3 separate regions of the Homo sapiens genome follow, and all the other regions are linked to region 2. Evidence: fine-mapped expression QTL. A gene starts in region 2. Each other region holds a variant in brackets. All regions are shown on one strand. Distances are between the middles of the regions.

The links. PIP is the estimated chance that this variant, and not a neighbour inherited with it, causes the effect. A credible set is the group of variants that fine-mapping cannot tell apart.
Region 1: its variant is the best candidate, but not a certain one, in a credible set for the expression of LAT2 in whole blood (INTERVAL, PIP 0.68).
Region 3: its variant is the best candidate, but not a certain one, in a credible set for the expression of LAT2 in blood mononuclear cells (TOPMed, PIP 0.56).

Annotation. Positions count from the first base shown.
Region 1 is chr7:74,145,155-74,153,336 of GRCh38, forward strand. No RefSeq gene overlaps it. Among named protein-coding and RNA genes, the nearest start is that of EIF4H, 25 kb to the right of the region's middle. The variant A/G (reference allele first, on the strand shown) is at 4,572.
Region 2 is chr7:74,206,400-74,214,581 of GRCh38, forward strand. LAT2 (linker for activation of T cells family member 2) reads left to right here and starts at 3,607. Exons shown (of 14, transcript NM_032464.3): 1 at 3,607-3,689. RefSeq lists enhancers at 3,091-3,200, 4,421-4,540, 6,411-6,490, 6,621-6,680 and silencers at 3,481-3,530, 4,641-4,730.
Region 3 is chr7:74,184,011-74,192,192 of GRCh38, forward strand. It overlaps EIF4H (eukaryotic translation initiation factor 4H), which reads left to right. Exons shown (of 7, transcript NM_022170.2): 2 at 3,601-3,788; 3 at 5,663-5,727; 4 at 5,812-5,908; 5 at 6,237-6,296. It overlaps MIR590 (microRNA 590), which reads left to right and starts at 7,188; the gene lies at 7,188-7,284. The variant C/T (reference allele first, on the strand shown) is at 3,529.

The DNA of each region.
Region 1 (8,182 bases), 61 kb before region 2:
TTTCATCAGCAATAAAGTCTCCTGCATTTACCATCTTCAATTCATTTGTGTGACCTAATTCCTCCTGGACACTGAAAAAGAACTTGGGTGCCACGAGTGTGGATGCAAAAGGCTGTCACACCGATCCTCCACTAAGCTGTTAACACTTAAGCCATTCACAGACAGCAGAGCTAAAAGAGTACTCTAACACTGCCTCTGGGGCTTCAATAGTCTCCGGCACCCTCCGCTAGACACTATCATGGGGCTGGTATGGAGATGGCTCTTGCTGGCGCCTAAAAACTCTCGCCCCGTCTCCTGCACCTGCTCACCTGTGCTCCCTCTCCTGTGAGGGGTGGAGTAGTGAGTGAGTGGAGTTCACCCCTACCAGCACCAAAGCAGCTGGCTAGTTCTTAGGCAACATCCTGCTTCACAATCACAGCTCACTGCAACCTCCCACCTCCCAGGCTCAAGTGTTCCTCCTGCCTCAGCCTCCCAAAGTGCTGGGATTGCAGGCATGAGCCACCATGCCCAGCCAGTCATTTTCTTTGGTTTACACTACTTTACCTCCCTGAGCCTTATTTTCCCCAAATGAGAGGTAGAAACTCCTCTGTTGGGAGGATTAAATGAGATATGTCTCAAATTTTTGTTGAAAACTGGACATTTTATTTTATCTTATTTTACTTATTTTTGAGACAAGGTCTCACTCACTCTGTCACTCAGGCTAGAGTGCAGTGGTGCAATCTTGGCTCCCTGAAAGCTTAACCTCCTGGGCTCAAGTGATCCTCCTGTCTCAGCCTCCTGAGCAGCTGGGACTATAGGCTCCAGCCACCACACTTGGCTAATTTATTTTTATTTTTATTTTTTGTAGAGACAGAGTCTCACTATGTTGCCTAGGATGGTCTGGAACTCCTGGGCTCAAGTGGTTCTCCTGACTCGGCCCCACAAAGTGCTGGCATTACAGGTGTGAGCCATGGCACCCAGCAAAAACTGGACATTTTAAATCATGTATTGTAATTCTAAATTCTGATGTCCTGGTGGTAGCTGTTGTAGATTTTGACATTGTTGTTGTTTGCTGGTTGTCTGTTTGGTTGTTTAATAACTTGAAGCCACTAAAGGAAGCCTCTGTTTTGTTTTGTGATTCTTGCTTTTATTTTCAAGACTGGCTTCCTAGGGGTCCATCTCTGAATCAGCATTGCTTAGTGCCCAGCCACTGTTTGGTCAGAAGGTTTCCGTAAACACCTTGACACACTAAGCCTTCCTTGGTCAAGAGGACCTGTGAGGGGGGTTGGGACACAGGTTAAATTATTTCCTCAAGGGCGTTGACATTTCTTTCTTTTTTCTTTTTTTTTTGAGATGGAGTCTGTCTCTATTACTCAGGCTGGAGTGCAGTAGCATGATCTTGGCTCACTGCAACCTCTACCTCCCAGGTTCAAGCGATTCTCCTGCCTCAGCCTCCCGAGTAGCTGGGATTACAGGCGCCCGCCACCACACCCAACTAATTTTTGTATTTTAGTAGAGATGGGGTTTCACCACCATGTTGGCCAGGCTGGTCTGGAACCCTCGACTTCAAGTGATCCACCTGCCTCAGCCTCCCAGAGTTTGGGATTACAGGTGTGAGCCACCACACCTGGCCTCTTTTTTTCTTTTCTTTTTTTTTTTTTTTTTGAGATGGAGTTTCGCTCTTGTTGCCCAGGCTGGAGGGCAATGGCATGATCTCGGCTCACTGCAACCTCTGGCTCCCGGGTACGAGCAATTCTCCTGCCTCAGCCTCCCAAGTAGCTGGGACTATAGACATGCGCCACACGCCTAATTGTTTGTATTTTTAGTAGAGATGGGGTTTCACCATGTTGACCAGGCAGGTCTCGAACTCCTGACCTCAGGAGATCTGCTCACCTCAGCCTCCCACAGGTATGAGCCACCATGCTCAGCTTTATTTTGTTTTATTTTATTTTATTTTATTTTATTTTATTTGAGACAGAGTCTCGCTCTGTCGCCCAGGCTGGAGTCCAGTGGAGCTATCTCGGCTCACTGCAACCTCTGCCTCTCAGGTTCAAGCAATTCTCATGTCTCAGTCTCTCAAGTAGCTGGGATTACAGGTGTGTGCCACCACGCCCAGATAATTTTTTTATTATTAGTTTTAGTAGAGTCGGGGTTTTGCCATGTTGCCCAGCCTGGTCTTGTACTCCTGACCTCAAGATATCCACCCGCCTCGGCCTCCCAAAGTGCTGGGATTATAGGCATGAGCCACCATACCCGGCCTCTTTTTTTAATTTTTATGGATATGTGGTAGGTATATGTATTTATGAGGTACATGAGATATTTTGATACAGGCATACAATGCATCATAATCACATCAGAGTAAATGGGGTATCCATCATCTCAAACATTTATCATTTCTTTGTTACAAACATTCCAATTATGCTCTTCTAGTTATTTTTAATTGCATAATAAATTATTGTTGACTGCCCAGGCACAGTGGCTCACGCCTGTAATCCCAGCACTTTGGGAGGCCGAGGCAGGTGGATTGCCTGAAGTCAGGAGTTCAAGACCAGCCTGAACAACATGGAGAAATCCCGTCTCTACTAAAAATACAAAATTAGCCAGGTGCAGTGGCGCATGCCTGTAATCCCAGCTACTTGGGAGGATGAGGTAGGAGAATCTCTTGAACCCAGGAGACAGAGGTTGCGGTGAGCCGAGATCGCACCATTGCATTCCAGCCTGGGCGACATTTTGTATGACATTGCTTAACCATAAACTCTTCATTTGCTTTTGTTTTTCTTTTCTTTTTTTTTGAGACGGAGTCTCGCTCTGTTGCCCACGGGTTCCACCGTGTTAGCCAGGATGGTCTCGATCTCTTGACCTTGTGATCCGCCAGCCTCGGCCTCCCAAAGTGCTGGGATTACAGGTATGAGCCACCACCCGCGGCCTGTTTTTCATTTTATTGTCTGAGAATCCCTTGCAGCCTGGGGGCATAGATTCGGGGAATTCTCCCACTCCTCACTTTCTTTTCTTCCTTAGGAATATCTTGGCCAGGTGCAGTGGCTTACACCTGAAATCCCAGAACTTTGGCAAGCTAAGGCAGGAGGAATGCTTGAGGTCAGGAGTTTGAGACCCGCCTGGGGAACAAAGTGAGATCCTATCTCTATTTAAAAAATAAGAATAATGGCCAGTCTTGGGGGATCACTCCTGTAATCCCAGAACTTTGGAAGGCAGAGGTGGGAGGATCACTTGAACCCACAAGGTTGAGGCTGCAGTGAGACGAGATTGTTCTGCCACACTCCAGCCTGGGTGGCAGAGTGAGACCCTGTCTCAAAACAACAACAACAATTAAAAAAAAAAAAAAAAGAATATCTTTATTTCTGACTTGGGGGCTTGCAGGTGGCTGAACTATTTCTGTGGAATGATCTGGAAACCCACACATATGTGAAGCCAGGTCAGGGCTTTGAATTCTTTGAATTATCAGGCTGAGGCAGGCAAGTTTGTCACTCCTCAAGGTAGATGAACTCATGATCTCCAGTCTACCCTTTCACAGACTGTGTGGCTTTTCAAGGATCACATTTCAAAGGGATCTCAGGCACAATTTCCATTTGAACTGGGTCCAGATACAATTTCCATTTGAACTGGACCTCAATGTAGTAGTCTCTCATTGTCTGAAGTATCACTCGGAGTTCTTTGTCTCACAACCATGAAAATTAAGGAGCATGGGCACCAAGGATGAGGCTGGAGTGAAAGTTTAATAAGCTAAAGAAGAAAGCTCTCTGCCGTGGAGAGGGGGTCTGAAAGAGGCCATTATTATTTATTTATTTATTTGAGACAGAGTTTCACTCTTGTTGCCCAGGCTGGAGTGCAATGGCATGATCTCGGCTCACCACAACCTCCACCTCCCGGGTTCAAGTGATTCTCCTGCCTCAGCCTCCTGAGTAGCTGGGATTATAGGCATGCACCACCACACCCAGTTAATGTTGTATTTTCAGTAGAGACGGGGTTTCTCCATGTTGGTCAGGCTAGTGTCGAACTCTCCTCAGGAGATCCACCCACCTCGGCCTCCCAAAGTACTGGGATTACAGGCATGAGCCACCGTGCCCAGCCAAAAGAGGCCATTTTTACAGTTGAATGCAAAAGCTTTTATAAGAAACCAATGAGGGCTGGGCATTTCATTTACATAAGGTGTGAATTTCTCCTATCTCCACCCCATCCTTCTAATGCGCATGGGGGCCCTTAGCTTAATTTACTCCATATTGCTTTAATTTTTTTTTAAATTAGCCATATTTTGCAAAAAAAAAAAAAAAAAGTGCATACATCCTATAATGTCCTATTTTATCTAGTAACTCTAGCCTAGGGCCTCATCTCCTGACCTGACACGGGCATTAAAGCAAGCTCCTGGCCACTGACCCTCAGTGACCATTCAGAGCAGAGACGTGATCAATTCATTGCCTATCATCTGTGGCGTTTAGTTTCCTCTTTGTTTCTGGATTCCTAGGATTTCCCTTTCTTTCATGGGAGCTCAACTGGGCATTGAAAATAATTTTTTTTAATTGTATTAAACATTTCAAAGAGTTTCAATAGGAAGGTTTTCTGGTTCTCCCTGCCTG[A/G]CAAATCAGAAACATATGGAGAGGTTTTTCAGTACATGTTTCATAGCCCTTCTTTCTCTGCCAAAATTCTGATATAGCCCCCTGGAGAACAACAAAATCTGGATGGAGTTTGGGCCAGAATTGGGGTGGGGTATAGATTGGCTCCTATGTGCTTGGAAAATAACTCACAACCCACTTTCCCAGTGTTGATTCAATTCTTTGTGTCTTAGACATTTTTTCTCATTTTGTTTTGTTTGAGACAGGGTCTCGCTCTGTCACCCAGGCTGGAGTACAGTGGCACAATCTTAGCTCACTGTAGTCTTGGCACCCCCGGGCTCAAGCCATCCTCCCGCCTCAGCCTCCCACATAGCTGGGACTACAGATGCGCACCACCATGCCTGGCTAAGTCTTTTTTTTTTTTTTTTTTTTTGAGACGGAGTCTCGCTCTGTCACCCAGGCTGGAGTGCAGTGGCGTGATCTCGGCTCACTGCAAGCTCCGCCTCCCAGGTTCACGCCATTCTCCTGCCTCAGCCTCCAGAGTAGCTGCTGGGACTACAGGTGCCCACTACCACACCCGACTAATTTTTTGTATTTTTAGTAGAGATGGGGTTTCACCATGTTGGCCAGGATGGTCTCGATCTCTTGACCTCGTGATCCACCCGCCTCGGCCTCCCAAAGTGCTGGGATTACAGGCGTGAGCCACCGCGCCCGGCCAATTTTTTGTATTTTTAGTACAGACAGGGTTTCACCATGTTAGCCAGGTTGGTCTTGATCTCCCGACCTTGTGATCCGCCCGTCTTGGCCTCCCAAAGTGCTGGGATTACAGGTGTGAGCCAGCACGCCCGGCCCTGGCTAAGTCTTAGACTTTTGTTTCCCCAACGTCTAACACAGTTTCATGGCCCATAGAAGATACTGAGTGCATGAATGAGGAATGCACGAATGACTCTTGGCAGACACTTCGTGGTCAGCATAAAAGAGGGAGAAAGCTGGCTGGGCAAAGTGGCTCACACCTGCAATCCCAGCACTTTGGGAGGCCGAGGCCAGTGGATCACGGGAGGCTGAGGCTGGTTCAAGACCAGCCTGGCCAACGTGGTGAAACCCATCTCTACTAAAAATACAAAAAATTAGTTGGGCGTGATGGCAGGCGCCTATAATCCCAGCTATTCAGGAGGCTGAAGCAGGAGAATCTCCTGAACCCAGGAGGCAGAGACTGCAGTGAGCTGAGATCGTGCCATTGCACTGCAGCCTGGGCAACAAGAGTGAAACTTCGTCTCAAAAAAAAAAAAAAAAAAGGGGGAGGGAGCGGATAAAGCTTATCTTGCATGTCTAATATATGATCAAACTAGATGGTACCCGATACAGCAGAGCACATAGTAATTGCTCGAGAAAGGTCATTATCCAGCAGAGCACAGTGGTTCATGCCTGTAATTCCAGCACTTTGGGAGGCTGAGGCAGGAGAATCATTTGAGGCCAGGAGTTCAAGACCAGCCTGGGCAACATTATGAGACCATCCCCCATCTCTACAGAAAAGTTTTTACAAATTAGCTGGGCATGGTGGGGTGTGCCTGTAGTCCCACCTACTTGGGAGGCTGAGGTGTGAGCATCACTTGAACCCAGGAATTTGACGCTGCAGTGAGCTGTGATTGCACTGCTGCACTCCAGCCTTGGTGGCAGAGTGAGACTCCAGATAAATAAATAAATGGAGGAGCTCACCACCATCCCCATGGGCTGAGCCAGGCTCGCACCACTGCACTCCAGCCTGGGCGACAGAGCGAGACCCTGTCTCAGAAAATAAAAAGAATTTTTTTTTTTTTTGAGACACAGTCTCGCTCTGTCGCCCAGGCTGGAGTGCAGCAGTGTGATCAGGGCTTACTGCAGCCTTGCACTTTTTGATGTTGTTGTTGTTCTTAGTTTCTTTGTTTGTGTTTAACGCTAAAAGATATTCTCCAGCAGAGAGCTGGTGCCATCAACAAGGAAAGAGAAAAAAGGAGAAGGGGCTCAAGTACTTGATACTTGATCACAGTCACGATATTCTCTAACAGAGAAGGCAGGGGCTTGATTTAAATAAGGCCGGGCACGGTGGCTCACGCCTATAATCCCAGCACGTTGGGAGGCTGAGGTGGGCAGATCACCTGAGGTCAGAAGTTCAAGACCAGCCTGGTCAACATGGCGAAACCCGTCTCTACTAAAAATACAAAAATTAGCCGGGCGTGGTGGTGGGCGCCTATAGTCCCAGCCATTCGGGAGGCTGAGGCAGGAGACTTGCTTGAACCCAGGAGGTGGAGGTTGCAGTGAGCCAAGATCGTGCCACTGCATTCCAGCCTGGGCAACAGAGTGAGACTCTGTCTCAAAAAAAAGAAAAAGAAAAAAAGAAAAAAATTTTAATACAAAAACAGCAATGACTGATTTTATGGAGAAGGCACTGGCCAGGAACAAATTCCCATTCCCACCCTTGAACCCTCCAAGAAGCTGGTGGTTGATAGCTTGTCGGTAGTGCTGCTGTCCTTTCTTCAGCCAGGGAGGGGTTCACAAAGTCGAGTGTGAGGCTGGAGCCCTCCTTACAGCTCTCATATTCCCTCTTACCAGCCCCTGTCCTCACATGGCTGCAATCTGCCCAAGCATCACACCCTTCCTTAGTGTCCGCAGAGAGCCTGCGGGGAACGGACAAGATCAACCCTGCCCCACAGGCACTCCCGATCTGTTTGGCAGGTCAAAAGGAAATCCATATGGCCCTTGAGAACTTGTTGAGGGACAATAGTTGTCACTGGGAAGGGGAATTGGATGGCCTGTTGCCCAGAGTATGCGGGAGACAAACTTTATACCATATACCCCTGGAAGGTTTTTGTTTTTTTTTTTTTTTTAGAGACAGAGACTCACTCTGTTGCCCAGGCTGGAGTGCAATGGTGCGATCTCGGCTCACTGCAACCTCCGCCTCCTGGGTGCAAGCGATTCTCCTGCCTCAGCCTCCTGAGTAGCTGGGATTACAGGCGCCCGCCACACCCATCTAATTTTTGTATTTTTAATGGAGATGGGGTTTCACCATGTTGGCCAGGCTGGTCTTGAACTCCTGACCTCAAGTGATCCCCCGGCCTCGGCCTCCCAAAGTGCTGGAATTATAGCTGTGAGCCACCGTGCCTGGCCTCATGGATAGTTTTTGAATCTTGCATATTGTGCAAGTAAACTTACTTTTTTTTTTTTTTTTTTTTTTTGAGATAGAGTCTTGCTCTATTGCCCAGGCTGGAGCGCAATGGCGCGATCTCGGCTCAGTGCAACCTCCACCTCCCGGGTTCAAGCGATTCTCCTGCCTCAGACTCCTGAACAGCTGGGACTACAGACGTGTGCCACCACACCCAGCTAATTTTTGTATTTTTAGTAGAGACGGGGTTTCACCAAGTTGGTCAGGCTAGTCTCAAACTCCTGACCTCGTGATCTGCCCGCCTTGGCCTCCTAAAGTGCTGGGATTACAGGCGTGAGCCACCGCACCCAGCTGTAAACTTACTTTTAAAAATAAAGGCTGGGCGCAGTGGCTCACACCTGTAATCCCAGCATTTTGGGAAGCCGAGGCGGGTGGATCACATGAGGCCAGGAGTTCAAGACCAGCCTGGCCAACATCTCTACTAAAAATACAAAAA
Region 2 (8,182 bases):
GGAAACAGATGCAGGTTTGTTCCCATTGTGTGAGGAGGAGCCAGTCAGGGGGTCCCAGCAAGGAAGCCAGGCTTTGGCCTCTGGGTTCAAATCCAGCTTCACCTCTGTGAGCCTCTGTCTTCTTACCGGTTACCGTGGGAAGGAAACGTGGTCCTGAATCCAGTGCACTTGGCATTGCTGGATGGAACAAGGGAGGGTGGCGGTTGCTCGCACAGGCACAGGTCTGGGCGTCTGATGGCCCTAGCTTCAGTCCTAGTCCGGCCACAGAGGGAGGCAGGGTGAGCTCCTGACACGGACGCCTGCAGAATCTCTCAGAACCGGTCTCTGGAGCATGTGCTACCCTCCTTGTCCACGAGGTGGCAGCAGCGGGCCTAGCCGCTCGTCTCCGCGGCCACCTCTTTCTGGCCAGGCCGGGACACCGCGGCCAAGGCTAAAAGAGAAACCTAGCCCCAAGCTGAGAGTGGGACCCCAGAGCCAGGGTCCCAGGCCTAGAGGCGTCCAGGACTGGGGGCCAAGGTTCTGAAATGCCAGACATATAGGAGGTGGGGGACCGTCATGCTCTTCCCTGGTGTCTCCAGCAGGTGGGATAAACACCGGGTTCAATGGGACCAGGCGCGGTGGCCTCACGCCTGTAATCCCTGCACTTTGGGAGGCTGAGGATGGAGGATCGCTTAAGGCCAGGAGTTCAAGACCAGCCTGGGCAACATAGTGAGACCTTGTCTCTACAAAAAAAAAAAAATACAAAAATTAGCTGGGCGTGGTGGCATGCACCTGGGGTTCCAGCTAACTCTGGAGGCTGAGGTGGGAGGATCGTTTGAGCCTGGGAGGCAGAGGTTGCAGTGAGCTGAGATTGCACCACTGCACTCCAGCCTGAGTGACCGGGTGAGACCCCATCTCAAAAAAAATTTTAAAAAAGGGGAAAGAACAGCAGGTAACCTCTATCCAGGTGCACAGTCTGGGGCTGAAGGGAAACTGTTGCAGGCTTGTTCCCATTGTGTGAGGAGGAGCCAGTCAGGGGGTCCCAGTGAGGAAGCCAGGCTTTGGGGTCTGGGTTCAAATTCAGCTTCACCTCTGGACCGAGTGAGACCCTGTCTCAAAAAAAAAAAAAAAAAGCAGGCGAGGAATAGAGACAGAGGGTCAGACAGCAAGAGTCCCAGAGGATGAGACAGATGGACACAGAGACAAAGGATGCGGGATGTAGGTGGGCAGGGCAGGGACAGAGAGACCCCTGCAGAGGCCACGAGGGCAGGGCAGATGGAACAAGTGACCAAAGACAGGTGGAGGAGTGGACGGCACGAGTGTCAGAGGCTGCAGACAGCGAGGGCGCTAAAGGGTGGGAGAAGGAAGGAGAGCCCTGCTCCACCCCAGCCTTGGGGGTCTCATCACCCCACTGCACAGATGAGGCTCCTGGCATCGGGGTGCAGAGAACGGCTCATAGCACAGGCAGAGGGACCACAGCCCACTCCTGCCCAGCGGTGCTCCTGTGCCCAGCCCTGGGGTGGACACCGTGGCTGCCATCCACACAGACATGAGGACCGAGTGAGATAGTTCCCTGTGGAGGCCAGGATGCTCTGGCACCTGAGGTCAATAAAGCCACATCCCACAAGTGGGTGGACTGCCTTGTGCTATTGACCATTAAACAGCTGCCCAAGGCCATTGAGCTATTAATTAAATAATAATTATTATTATTTTAAATTTTTTTGTTGTGTTTTTTGGGTTTTTTTGTTTTTGTTTTGTTTTTTTGAGATGGAGTCTCGCTCTGTTGTCCAGGCTGTAGTGCAGTGGCACGATCTTGGCTCACTGCAAACTCCGCCTTCTGGGCTCAAGTGATTCTCCTGCCTCAGCCTCCCAAGTAGCTGGGATTACAGGCACCCACCATCACACCCGGCAAATTTTTGTATTTTTAGTAGAGATGGGGTTTCACCATTTTGGCCAGGCTGGTCTCAAACTCCCGACCTAAATAAGGTGATCCACCTGCCTTGGCCTCCCAAAGTGCTGGGATTACAGATGTGAGCCACCACGCCCGGCCTATTTATTGTTTTTACAGACAGACAGGGTCTTGCTGTCCCCCAGGCTGGAGTGCAGTGGCAGAGTCACGGCTCACTGCAGCCTCCAACTCTTGGGCTCAAGAAATCCTCCCGTTTTGGCCTCCCAAAACACTGGGACTACAGGTGTGTGCCACCACACCCAGCTAATTAAAAAAATTTTTTTAGAGATGGGGTCTCGTTCTGTTGTCCAGGCTGGTCTCAAATTCCTGTTCTCAAGCGATCCTCCTGCCTCAGCCTCCAAAAATGTTAGGATTGCAGGTGCAAGCCACTGCACCTGGCCTCTATCTCCCTGTTTCTTGCTCTCTCCCCATCTGTGTGTGTCTCTGACAGTCTGTGGCTCTCTGTATCTTTCTGTGTGTCTCTCTGTGTGTGTCTTGGTCCATCTCATGCCCAGCTAATTTTTAAATTTTTTGTAGAGATGGGGTTTCACCATGTTGGCCAGGCTGGTCTTGAACTCCAGACCTCAGGTGATTCTCCTGCTTCAGCCTCCCAAAGTGTTGGGATTACAGGCATGAGCCACCGTGCCTGGCCCATGGGTATGAATTTCTGCCTGTGTGTGTCTTCTTCTTTTTTTTTTTTTTTTTGAGATGAAGTCTTGCTCTGTCACCCAGGCTGGAGTGCAGTGGCGCTATCTTGGCTCACTGCAACCTCCACCTCCTGGGTTCAAGCAATTCTCCTGCCTCAGCCTCCCGAGTAGCTGGGATTACAGGCACCCGCCACCACACCCAGATAATTTTTGTATTTTTGGTAGATATGGGGTTTCACCATGTTGGTCAGGCTGGTTTTGAACCCCTGACTTCATGACCTGCCTGCCTTGGCCTCCCAAAGTGCTGGGATTACAGGCATGAGCCACCGCGCCCGGCCCATGGGTGTGAATTTCTGCCTGTGTGTGTCTTTTTAGCGTATGTGTGTCTCCATATCTGCCATCTGCAGGAGCACCTCAGTTTCATTATCTTGCTCCCTGTCTATTGGAGTGTATCTCTCTTCCTCTCTGTGTGACTTTTTGTGTTTATGTGTGTGTTTAGTGTGTGTCCATATTTTCCTGTTCTCTTGTGTCTCTCTGCTGTGTCTCTCTCTTTTTCTTTCTGTTTTTTGAGACGGAGTCTCCCTCTGTCACCCAGGCTGGAGTGCAGTGGTGCGATCTCGGCTCACTGCAACCTCTGCTTCTGAGGTTCAAACGATTCTCCTGCCTCAGCCTCCCGAGTAGCTGGAATTACAGACACATGCCACCATGCCCAGCTAATTTTGTATTTTTAATAGAGACGGGGTTTCACCATGTTGGCCAGGCTGGTCTTAAACTCTTGACCTTACGTGATCCACCCGCCTCGGCCTCCCAAAGTTTTTGGATTACAGGTGTGAGCCACCTCGCCCGGTCCTATCTCTCTTTCTTCTCTTTCTCCCTCTCACTTTGTTTCTCTTCTCTCTCTCTCTCCCGCCTCCTTCCCCCGTCTCCCCTCCCTTCCCCCCACCGCCCTCTTCATAGCTGAGCCTGTCCGGCAGTGCGGCGGATGTACGGATGATTCAGTGGCTGGCAGGAAGCCCGCCCTGCCCGCCCGCCAGTGTCAGTGGTGTTGGCATCAGCTTGGGCAGGTGTGCGGGCTCAGGATGGGGCGGCCGTGGTGAGGAACCCTGGACTCTCAGGTAAGCCTTTCCCAGGGGTGCCTCAGTCCTCAGGCTGTCCCCCATCCCCCAGGAGCTCCTGGCCCCACTGGGTGGGGTGGGAAGAGGCCTGGATGCCTGGCGCCCCCTCCCGCAGCCCCACTCTCACCCTGGCACCAGGCTCTGTGGCACTTCAGGGGTCAGTTTGTTTCTGGGCTTCTGGCCACTCTCTTGCCCTCGCCTTCCCCTGTCCAGCCTGTGTAGCCTTGGGACATCCCAGGGTGGTCCCATCATTGCCAGAGACTGGTGAAGTAAGTGGCCGAGAGCCAAAACAGTGGCTGCCCTGGCCTGGGAGCCTCGGTTTCCTCATCCGTGAAATGGGACTGTAACCCCCTACACAGGTCAGGGGAAAACGGTGGGATTACAGGCCAGGGCCCAGGTCTTGCCCCAGGTCAGGTGAAGAACCCCCACTGCCTCCCTGCCCAGCCCCCTACCTGGCCCTCAACTCTGTCCCTGGGACCAGGGCTGCTCAGGCCCCTCCTGCACCCGCCCGCCTCCCTCTCTCCCTCCCAGCTAGGCTCATTTGAAGCCCAGAGTTATTTGGAAAAAGCAACAGGACCAGCCGGGCACGGTGGCTCAACCTGTAATCCCAGCATTTGGGGAGGCCAAGGCGGGAGGATCATTTGAAGTCAGGAGCTGGAGACCAGCCTGAGCAACATAGTGAGACTCCCATCTCTTTAAAAAATAAAAATAAAAAAATATAATTAAAAACTAAATGAAAAAACCAACAGACCCCAGAGCAGAGTCCAGTGGATAAAGCCATCCAGGGCTTCAAGCCAGGCTGCCCCCTCCCCAACCCCAGTGTCCCCAACCACAGCTCAGCTCGGAGAAGGCTGGGAGAACCGGCAGGGTGGTCTCGAGCGTCCTTCCAGGCGGGATTCAGACACTGTAGCTCCTCCAGCCCAGCCCCGAGAACTTCCCCGAAGCCAGCTCTTGGCAATCGTTGTTCATATGAAAACTGCCCACTTCCCTTTAGTGCTATTTTGGCCTCTGCAGAACCGTGGTCTGTGGCAGCCCCCACTCCCCACCCCGCCCAGCCCTGCCGGCCCCTGGGGGCCTCAGAGGGTCCACCCTCCGCTCCCTCCACCTCAGCCCACCTGCTTTCAGAACCTGGATGGGAGAGTGAAAGTGAGAGCGAGACAGAGACACAAAGGGAGACAGAGACAGAGAGAGAGCACAGAATTTTTTTAAACGGAGTCTCACTCTGTTGTCCAGGCTGGAGTGCAGTGGCGTGATCTCGGCTCACTGCAACCTCCACCTCCCAGGTTCAAGCAGTTCTCCTGCCTTACCCTTCCAAGTAGCTGGGGACTACAGGCACGTGCTACCACACCTGGCTAATTTTTTATTTTTTATTTATTTTTTATTTTTTGGAGACAGTCTTGCTCTGTCTCCCAGGCTGGGAGTGCAGTGGTGCAATCTTGGCTCACTGCAAGCTCCACCTCCCGGGTACATGCCATTCTCCTGCCTCAGCCTCCCGAGTAGCTGAGACTAGAGGCGCCTGCCACCACGACCGGCTAATTTTTTGTATTTTTAGTAGAGACGGGGTTTCGCCATGTTAGCCAGGATGGTCTCAATCTCCTGACTTTGTGATCTGCCTGCCTCGGCCTCCCAAAGTGCTGGGATTACAGGTGTGAGCCACCGTGCCTGGCCTAATTTTTTATTTTTAGTAGAGACAGGGTTTCACCATGTTGGCCAGGCTGGTCTTGAACTCCTGACCTCAGATGATTTGCCCGCCTCAGCCTCCCAAAGTGTTGGGATTACAGGTGTGAACTACCGCACCCGGCCAACAGCGCAGGATGTATTCAGTCTGGGGGCAGACACATGACTGTTTGTTAAATTTCATTTTTTGTTTTTAGAGATGGGGTCTTGCTCTGTCACCCAGGCTGGAGTTCAGTGGTGTGATCTTGGCTCACTGCAGCTTCCAACTCCTGGGCTCAAGCAATTCTCTTGCCTCAGTGTCCCAAGTAGCTGGAACCACAGGCATGTGCCACTGCGCCTGCCTAATTTTTTCATTTTTTTGTAGAGACAGGGCCTTGTTACATCGTCCATGCTGGTCTCGAACTCCTGGCCTCAAGCGATCCTCCTGTCTCGGCCTCCCAGTGTTGAGATTACAGGCGTCAGCCACCACGCCCAGCCTGATCCCATTTTATTTATTCATTTATTTAATTTATTATTATTATTATTATTATTTTGAGATGGAGTCTCACTCTGTCTCCCATGCTGGAGTGCACTGGCGTGATCTCAGCTCACTGCAACTCACTGCCTCCTGAGTTCAAGTGATTCTCATGCCTCAGCCTCCCAAGTAGCTGGAATTACAGGCTTGCACCTCCACGCCTGGCTAATTTTTGTATTTCTAGTAGAAACAGGGTTTCACCATGTTGGCCAAGCTGGTCTCAAACTCAAGTGATCCTCCTGTCTCAGCCTCCCAAAGTATTGGGATTACAGGTGTGAGTCCCTGTACCCAGCCCGACCTCATTTTATAGATGAGAAAACTGAGGCGGGGGGCTCTCAGGCAGAGGCTAGATTTGGTCCCATGAGCCCTCCTGCAAGACAAGTTGCTCCAACCTCACAAGCCTGAGATGAACTTGGGCCATGCTGGAGGGGTTGGGGGTACACCCCGGGTTGGGGGCACTGAGGCAAGGAGAGTTTCGAGGAGGGAGAAGGGCAGTGCCCAGGCGGGCCATGGGGAAGAGAGAGCAGAGCTTTCCTCGGACAACCTCCCGGGGTGACGTGGGTCGTGCCAGTCACACGGCTCAGAAATTCACTTGTTCCCACTGACTCACTTGGCTTTTGGGGAGAGGCCTGGTGGCTTCTCTGTGATGCGCCTCTTACAGAGGCTCAGGGCCGCATGGAGATTCCCTGTCATCTTACCGCAGGGATTTGGGAAGTCCAGAGAGGTCCTGAGACTTGTCCAAAGCCACACAGCTTTCAAGGGGGACAGCCCAGGTCCTGGTGGACCTCAGGGGGATCCCAAGGCAGGAGGTAGGCAGCCTGGAGCTCCTCCATTATTATTATTATTATTATTGAGATAGAGTTTCGCTCTTGTTGCCCAGGCTGGATGGAGTGCAGTGGCGTGATCTCAGCTCACTGCAACCTCCACCTCCTTGGTTCAAGCAATTCTCTGCCTCAGCCTCCTGAGTAGCTGGGATTACAGGCGCCCACCACCACACCTGGCTAATTTTTTGTATTCTTTTTTAGTAGACACAGGGTTTCACCATCTTGGCCAGGCTGGTCTTGAACTCCTGACCTCATGAACCACCCGCCTCAGCCTCCCAAAGTGTTGGGATTACAGGCATGAGCCACTGTGCCCGGCCATTTTTTTTTTTTTTTTTTTTTGAGATGGAGTCTCGCTCTGTTGCCCAGGCTGGAGTGCAGTGGCATGATCTCGGCCCACTGCAACCTCCACCTCCTAGGTTCAAGTGATTCTCTTGCCTCAGACTCCTGATTAGCTGGGATCACAGGCGTGTGCCACCACACCCGGCTAATTTTTGTATTTTTAGTAGAGATGGGGTTTCACCATGTTGGTCAGGCTAGTCTCGAACTCCCGACCTCGTGATCTGCCCGCCTTGGCCTCCCAAAGTGCTGGGATTACAGGCGTGAGCCACCACGCCCTGCTGGAGCTCCTCCCTTTTAAGTCCTGTTTACTGCTCCAAGCCTCACCTTCCCCAGCTGTGGGATGGGGAGAAGCCCTCCTCACTGGTGGCCAGGGTGGGAAGAACACGGCGGGTGGGGGAGAGTGGACACTCGGGAGTGTTGGCTCCACAAATGCCCACCATACTCAACCCCTTCAGAGACCCCACCACCCTCAACTCTGTCCCCAGCCATCTCCAGGGGGCCAGGTCTCCTTATTATTATTTTTTGAAACGGAGTCTCACTCTGTTGCCCAGGCTGGAGTGCAGTAGCATGATCACAGCTCACTGCAGCCATATATATGTATATATATATATATATGAAAAAATATATATAAATATATATATATGAAAAAATATATATAAATATATATATGAAAATATATATATAAATATATATATGAAAATATATATAAATATATATATGAAAATATATATATGAAAATATATATAAATATATATATGAAAATATATATGAAAATATATATATGAAAATATATATGAAAATATATATATAAATATATATATATGAAAATATATATATAAATATATATATGAAAATATATATATAAATATATATATGAAAATATATATATAAATATATATATATGAAAATATATATATAAATATATATATATGAAAATATATATATAAATATATATATATGAAAATATATATATAAATATATATATATGAAAATATATATATAAATATATATATGAAAATATATATATAAATATATATATATGAAAATATATATATAAATATATATATATGAAAATATATATAAATATATATATGAATATATATATATATATATGAAAATATATATATATGAAAATATAT
Region 3 (8,182 bases), 22 kb before region 2:
GAGTATTAAGCCACTGGTGGTTTTGTGAGGCACGAGTGAGTTGAACAGTTTGGTGGGCTTTGGTGTATCTTTGCTCCAGAATTATATCACCAGTTAGCTGTTAGGTGCTGCCATTTGGTAACGTGCCAACTTTTCAAAAATGGTTTGCCCCAAACTAGATTTTTCTATCTTCTCCAAAGCCAGAGCCACCTTCCTGTCCTAGTGCATTTTTAGCAGTGCCCCGTCATCTTACTGGCATTCACCTGGGCTTCCTGTGCTCAATCAGGGGTCAAGTCTGGCCTGATCTCAGTTCCACAGTTCCTCTACTCTGTAAGTTCGAGCACAATTAGCAAGCCTTCGCACCTCCATTTTCCTTACTTAGCAACTACATCAAACACCCGAGAGTTTATCATCTCTCTTCATCCTCACCCTCCTTTTTAGTTTTTATGTATATGTTACACATTCATACACACAAACATACCTGCATATATACATGTGTTTTATACGTCCCACACAACTGTGAGCTGCTTACATACAAGACAGTCTTTTAACATCATTACGCATCACTAGATGTTTAATGTTGAGTAATGAATTTAAACTGTTTTTAACATTGACCCTCCATTTTTATGGTTTTCCACATGTTTATACTGTATCTTGTTTTTTGTTTGTTTGGTTTTGTTGTTGTTTTTTGTGCTTTTTTGTTTGTTTTTTGTGTTTTTTTGTTTTTGTTTTTTTGAGATGGAGTCTCGCTCTGTAGCCCAGGCTGAAGCGCAGTGACACAGTCTCAGCTCACTGCAAGCTCCACCTCAGCCTCTGAAGTAGCTGGGATTACAAGTGTGTGCTACCACACCTGGCTAGTTTTTGTATTTTTAGTAGAGACGGAGTTTTACCATGTTGGCCAGGCTGGTCTTGAACTTCTGGCCTCAAGTGATCCACCCACCTTGACCTCCCGAAGTGCTGGGATTACAGGTATGAGCCACTGTGCCCCGCCTTTTTGTTGTTGTTGTTGTTTCTTCAGTTGGAGACAGTCTCCTTCTGTCACCCAGGCTGGAGTGCAGTGGTGCCATCACAGTTCACTGCAGCAACAACCTCCTGGGCTCAGGTGATCCTCCCACCTCAGCCTCCCAGGTAGCTTGGGACTACAAGTGTGGACCATCACTCCCGGCTAATTTTTTGTATTTTTTATAGAGATGGGGTCTTACTGTGTTGCCCAGGCTGGTCTTGAACTCCTGGCTTTAAGTGATCCTCCCGCCTCAGCCTCCCAAACTGTTGGGATTACAGGCATGAGCCACTGGGCCCGGCTTTATACTGTAACTCATATATTTATTATCCCGTCCTAAATAGTATCTTACTGAAAATATTTTAGGATTTATGATTTCGGAGATATCAGCGATAGAGTACTATTGGCAAAGGTTATTGAAATGCAAAGTAAGTCACATTTACTAGGCCCGAAAAGATGGGAGAAGTGGGCAGGTAGGATGCAATTCACTTGTAAACCTATTTTCTGGTGGTCTTAGAACAGAACGTGGAACTTCCTATTGGAAAGTACCGGAATTGTGAATTATGAAACTTAAAAGCTTTTTTTTTTTTAACCATCAAAGAATCATCACAGCTTGGTTGACCCTTCTACTTTAGAAAAATGCTTTAATGAATAATATTTGTCTGCAAGACACCTGGAATTTATCTTCAGGAAGAAGTGGAATTTCCATTGTGTTTCTGGCAGTATGTAGATGAAAGACCAGGTTGCTCTCTAAGATGGATATTAATATTTCCCCTGCAAAGAGGGTGACTTTGGGCAGGTCTTGGGTTGTTGTGAAGGATCTCATTTATTTGAACGCATTTCCCGTTTAGAAAAAAAAACTGCAGTTGGCTGCCAGCACGGTATTCTTGGAGCAAACAGGAAATGGGTTAAATGTCTGTTTCAAAAAAAAATCACCCCCTTAATTTTTTTTTCCTCCTGAGTTTTCCAAACGTTTTATTTTGGAAATTTTCAAATCTACAATAAGGTTGAAATAATGGTACAGTTGGATGACGCTAGTGGATGCAGAAGTGACTATTCTGCCTTGTTTGCTGAATCCTTGCTGTATACCGGCACACATGCCCTTTATGCTGACCTGCTTGAAAACAAATGTTGGCCATCTTGGCACTTCACTTCTAACGACTTTAAGTCGTTCCTGGGGCATTCTTATGGCAAATATCGTTTAATATAATAATCTATTTATACTATATTCTGATGTCTTTTTTTTTTTTTTGAGATGGACTCTCGCTCTGTCGCCCAGGCTGGAGTGCAATGGGCTCACTACAACCTCCACCTCCTGGGTTCAAGCGATTCTCCTGCCTCAGCCTGCCCAGCAGCTGGGATTACAGGCATGCACCACCACACCAAGCTAATTTTGTATTTTTAGTAGAGACAGGGTTTTACCACATTGGTCAGGCTGATCTTGAACTCCTGACCTCAAGTGATCCACCCACCTCGGCCTCCCAAAATGCTGTATTAGGATTAACTCAGTTTTACAAATAAAATAAAGCTTAGAGAAGTTGAATAACTTCTCAAGGTCATATGCTAGTAAGTGACAGAGGCTAGATTTAAACCAATACCTATGCAGAGTAAACGACGCTTGATACAGCTGAGGAGATGACATCGAGGTTGAAATGGATTGGTAATGCACGCCATACGCATGTATTTGAGGACCCTGTGAAGTATTGCACGAGAGTGTTAGGTACGTCAGTACTTGCTGTGTGACATCTAAAATTTTTATTAGGACATTCTTATGCCCATAATCAGGCAACAAGGAGAAATTTTTTTTTTTTTTTTTTTTTTTTTTTTTTTTTTTTTTTTTTTTTTTTTTTTGAGACGGAGTCTCTGTCGCGTGAGCTGAAGTGCAGTGGTGCGATCTTGGCTCACTGCAGCCTCCGCTTCCCAGGTTCAAGCGGTAGGAGAAATAATTCTATTATGTATGAATGTGTTAAACGTAAACAACTTCAGTAATCCTTCTTCTGAATACAACATTACTTCTAGACTGTCCATTTCTGTATTTCTTAGAACCACGGTGTGTGAAGGAGGGTACTTGCTTAGGTTTTAGGATGTAAATACTGCAGATACAGATTCTGAGTGAATAGGAGAGAAGCAGTTGTCTTAGGAAGGTGTGTTACGTTTGGGCTGGGCATGGTGGCTCACACCTGTAATCCCAGCACTTTGGGAGGGTGAGGCAGGCAGACCACCTGAGGTCAGAAGTTGGAGACCAGCCTGGCCAACATGGTGAAACCCTGTTTCTACTAAAAATGCACAAATTAGCCAGGTGTGGTGGCACATGCCTGTAATCTCAGCATCCTTAGGAGGCTGAGACAGGAGAATCTCTTGAACCCGGGAAGCAGAGGTTCCAGTGAGCCAAGATTGTGCCACTGCACTCCAGCCTGGGTGACAGAGTGACAGTCTGTCTCAAAAAATTTTTCTTTTCCTTTTTTTTTGTTTCTCCAGCCATTCTCTGTAACAGTCTTGTGGTACATCGAGCAGAGTGCCTCACCTGGGGCGCTGGCGGCGTAGCTCAG[C/T]GGAAGACCGCTTTACTTGTTTTGCTTATTCCACTCTGGGCACACTTGAATCCTGTTTGTCTCCCCTCCTAGGTCCCGCGGCAGTGCTGGTGGCCATGGTTCCCGTAGCCAGAAGGAGTTGCCCACAGAGCCCCCCTACACAGCATACGTAGGAAATCTACCTTTCAATACGGTTCAGGGCGACATAGATGCTATCTTTAAGGATCTCAGCATAAGGAGTGTACGGCTAGTCAGAGACAAAGACACAGATAAATTTAAAGGTGAGTTTGGGGGATTCTTATTGTATATTACTGTAAAGTGTAGGGGAGGATGGGAAGGGGTTCTAAATAAAAATAGATTTGTGAACCAGAGGCTGTAATCAAGAAAGTGTTTTAAACATTTGCCTGGTCTAAGTGGCCGAAAGAAACATAACTCTTCAACTCATAGGTCTTCAGTTCACTTAGGGGAAAATGTTTTGTACACAGTGTAGTTCATAGAAATACATGGCATATGCCCAGGTTTGTGAGCCTGACCTCTACAGCAGTCCTGTCTGCCAGTAAAGGAGTTCCCCAGGAGAGAGAGGAATAGAGCCGAGGACTCTTAGGCACATTCCTCCTGGAATGACTCGTAGATTTTCCTTGGTAGTTAATCCAGTAATCATATGGTACTGTCATCCAGTAATCATAAAACCCAGAAGAGAAGCAGCCAGTGCTGTCAGTATGCATTTGTAAATTTGGAGAGTGTGCTTGGGAGGGCTGGCTGAGATTTCAGATATGGTGTCTATAGGTCGTGTGTCTGCAGGGTGCGGGAGCAAAGAGCAGGAAGAAGAAGGGATCCGAGCAGCATTCTCCTGCCTGCAGGGCTTCCTGAAGGAAGTGTGCCTGCTGTGTAAGTGCACGATGCTAGGACCCAGGATGTTTGGCCCGCATAATCCACCCAAAAGCACATCTGTGACAAGTATGGGGTAACTTGGGGCGGGGAGCTGTGCCAGCAGTCGAGAAGGCCTTGCTGACCTGGGTGGTTTTGTGTGTCGGTGGCACTCTTACTCTTTTTGACTTCAGAATCTGAAGCCACATGTAGTGTGTAATCAAACAGTGAAAACAAATATATCAGTTACACTTGTGAAGTAAGCTCCAGGAAGCATTAGGAACTAAACTTTGGGTTGGAGTGTGTGGGTGAGCCTAGCCTTTGGGCTGGGTCAGTCGCTGCAGGCTTTGGAGTTTGGCTCATGAAGGACCATCTTCATTTGAGCAGCTCTAGAAGATGAGATTGGGTGTCTGTTGCTTCTGTGAAGTTGGGGGTAGTTTTCTCCATTATTCTCAACATTGAATCCACTTAGGGAGGAAACCTGGGGGGACATCCCTCCAGCCAAGGCAGTATGTTCTTAACACACAGTTGGTAAACAGGGAAAGTTTGGACTCAGGCCTTTAGAGCACTTGCGGTCTAGTGGGCTTCAAAGATGAAGTGTGATTATTAAGTTATTATACACAGGGCAAGGACGCTGGGGGAGAGGGGATGCAGGGTGTAGTGCCAGCATCTGGGGAGTAATGAACTAGATTTAGACTCCAGACAGCAAGGAAGGGGCAATGTCAGACCCCTGGCATCAGGGACACAGGTTGTCAGTAACAGGTACTTGGACCCAGGCTGCCTGTCTTTTAATTAACATTCAGAGAAGAATGCCCTGATTGCCAAGGATATATTTTCAGCTTTGTGAAGCAAATTTTATGTCAGTTACCTGAGTAGTAAGTTAAATCGGCACTTTAAGCCTCTTTCTTCAGAGCATTTTAGGTACCAAGTTTGAAATCTACGAAATCTAATCCTCACTTAGATTAAATAGTCATTCAGAAGTCAGAAGAGCTCTGCAGATGGCCTGAGAAAGGTTTGAATATTATGGTTAAAACATTCAAGAAGAAAGCTTTCTAGAAACGCAGCTGCTATTTCAGTGCATGTTCAGTTAGCATTTTCTGACTGATAAAATAGAATTGAGAGGGAGGAATGCCAGTCAGGGTTCTATCTATTGAAAGGCTCTCCTAGTCTGCCATCATCTAGACAACAGAATGGTAGTTGTGACGTGGAGAAGTAGTATGAATAGGATCTTCCCACATCTTTAACCCAGAATTACTTGAGGAAATCGGGGTCTTCTTTTCTTTTCCAGGATTCTGCTATGTAGAATTCGATGAAGTGGATTCCCTTAAGGAAGCCTTGACATACGATGGTGCAGTAAGTATCCTCGGGTTTTCTCTGTCATAGCAGTTGAGATTGTTTTCTTTGCCAATACTTACACTATTTTCCCTTTATCATTAGCTGTTGGGCGATCGGTCACTTCGTGTGGACATTGCAGAAGGCAGAAAACAAGATAAAGGTGGCTTTGGATTCAGAAAAGGTGGACCAGATGACAGAGGTGATTGGTTCTTCTAAAGCTGAACATCATAAAGATTTGCAGTATGCCTACCAATTCCAACTCGTGAACGTTCCTAGTAGAACTCGATTATCTCATAGGTGTGATAGGTTCTCGTGAGCTCTTAAAAGTTTGCGTAAAATCCTAGAAAGAATGGCTGATGCTTCTGCAAGCCTGGCGTTTTTTGTTTTCTGTTGGAAGCAAAAGCTCTTAAAATGATTTCATTGAACCTTCCATCACTTGAGTTGTATGTCTTCCAAATGAATTTTTCCATGTTTGCGCAGCAAGGTAATGACACGACCTCAACTTTATCTTTTTTGTGTATCCTCAGGAATGGGTAGCTCTCGAGAATCTAGAGGTGGATGGGATTCCCGGGATGACTTCAATTCTGGTATCAGTATTTAAAGTATCACCACTTAATTTTTCCTAGGAGCCTTGCTGCTGTTCTCTGTTTCTTACGAGTAGCCCGCCTGGCCGGACTACTTATTTAGTTCCTTTAACAAATACAACTCTCCTGCAGGGTGCCCAGGCATGCAAGTAAGCCTCTGTTAGAGCCTGTGGGGGCAGGACTTGAGCCCCATGCACCTTGTGTGGTCACCTTTGTTAGCCTGCAGCTCCTTGGATGTGTACGGGCCTGGGTCCTTGAGCTCGCTCAGCAGTCTTTCTCAGACTCTAGCCCAGGGAAACTCCTCTGTGGTTTTGTGTATGGCACCAAGAGAAGTACTGTTCCTTCTGGAAAACATAGGATAGAGGTTTGGGTTCTTACATGGTGAAAGGTAGTCCTGATGGCCCTTTTTTTTCTTGGAGGATTGTGGGGAGGTCCAGTCCCTTGATGGTGGACCTGATGCACTTCGCCGTTCTCTTTCTTAGCCAACCCAGGCAGAGCAGCTGGTGGTATAGCACAAAGCATCAGTCCACACGCCAGGCCTCTGCCCTGCAGGGTGATTTTAAGCATTTTTATCATCTTTACTTTCTGTTTTTAAATTACAAAAGTATAATTTTTTATATATGCACATGATAAAAACTTCAGTTGTAACCCAGAAAGGTAGGAAGAGAAAAACAAATTTGTTTTCTTTCCCGCAAACTTGGGATGTGCTGTCAATGCTGTGCTGTATAGAACGTCAGCACCCTCCCCCCATCAAAACAAAACCGGTGTAAAGTAGTGGGTGAGTATGGGAGGGACTGGTGCACGCTGTCTTGTGAGTCTGAGATTTTTAAAAACTCAGCTTTGGCTGAACAGGTGACGACTACCTGTTGAATAATATAGTTCTTAAAAGTCCTGTAGCCAGTCAGAAATGAGCTTATTCATAAAAGTGCAGTATGGTGAAGTCAATCTGTAATTTTATGTATAAGCTAGTCTCTGATTGAAACATGCAGCAGCTGTCTTCTTAGAGCCAACCAGCAGCTCAGGGAACGGCCTTTCCCCTGCCAGTTTGGTATTCGCAGGTGTTATAGAAGTTGCCCACATACTAACGTCTTTCTACCCTTGGCTTAGCTTGGCCACTGGCGCTCAAGCAGAGACACAGTGAACACGGCCATGGCCTGGCCGCCACCAGTTCTGGTGGGAACTGCAGTGTTTTGGTGACATCTCAAACCCTATGTGGGCTCACTCGATGGAGTAATGGCTAATTTGATACTTTATACGTTATTTGCGAGAGTAGATCTTTTTTACTTTTTAATAGGATGGTGCTATTTTTTTTAATGATACCTGCTCATGTAAAAAACAAAATAGAGCAACAGAAAAGTACCAAGAAAGCAAAAACATTTCATCATCAGAAATAGCCAGTGTTAAACTAAGCTTTGTAAAGAAAACTCTGAAGATTCTCATGAATAGTTTGCTTCCTAGAAACCCACCAACAGATTTTTTGTTGTTGTTTTTTTTGAGACGGAGTCTTGCTCTGTTGCCCAGGCTGGAGTGCAGTGGTGCGATCTCGGCTCACTGCAAGCTCTGCCTCCTGGGTTCATGCCATTCTCCTGCCTCAGCCTCCCAAGTAGCTGGGACTACAGGCACCCACCACCACGCCCGGCTAATTTTTTGTATTTTTAGCAGAGACGGGGTTTCATCATGTTAGCCAGGATGGTCTCGATCTCCTGACCTCGTGATCCACCTGCCTCGGCCTCCCAAAGTGCTGGGATTACAGGCATGAGCCACCGCGCCCGGCCCCCACCAACAGATTTGATGAGAGATCCTTGTTCATCTGCTTCACCAGCGTGGTGTGAGCTATTTGTTTCACGCTAGACATTGGTGGTCGAAATCATTTAATCTCATAGTAAAGG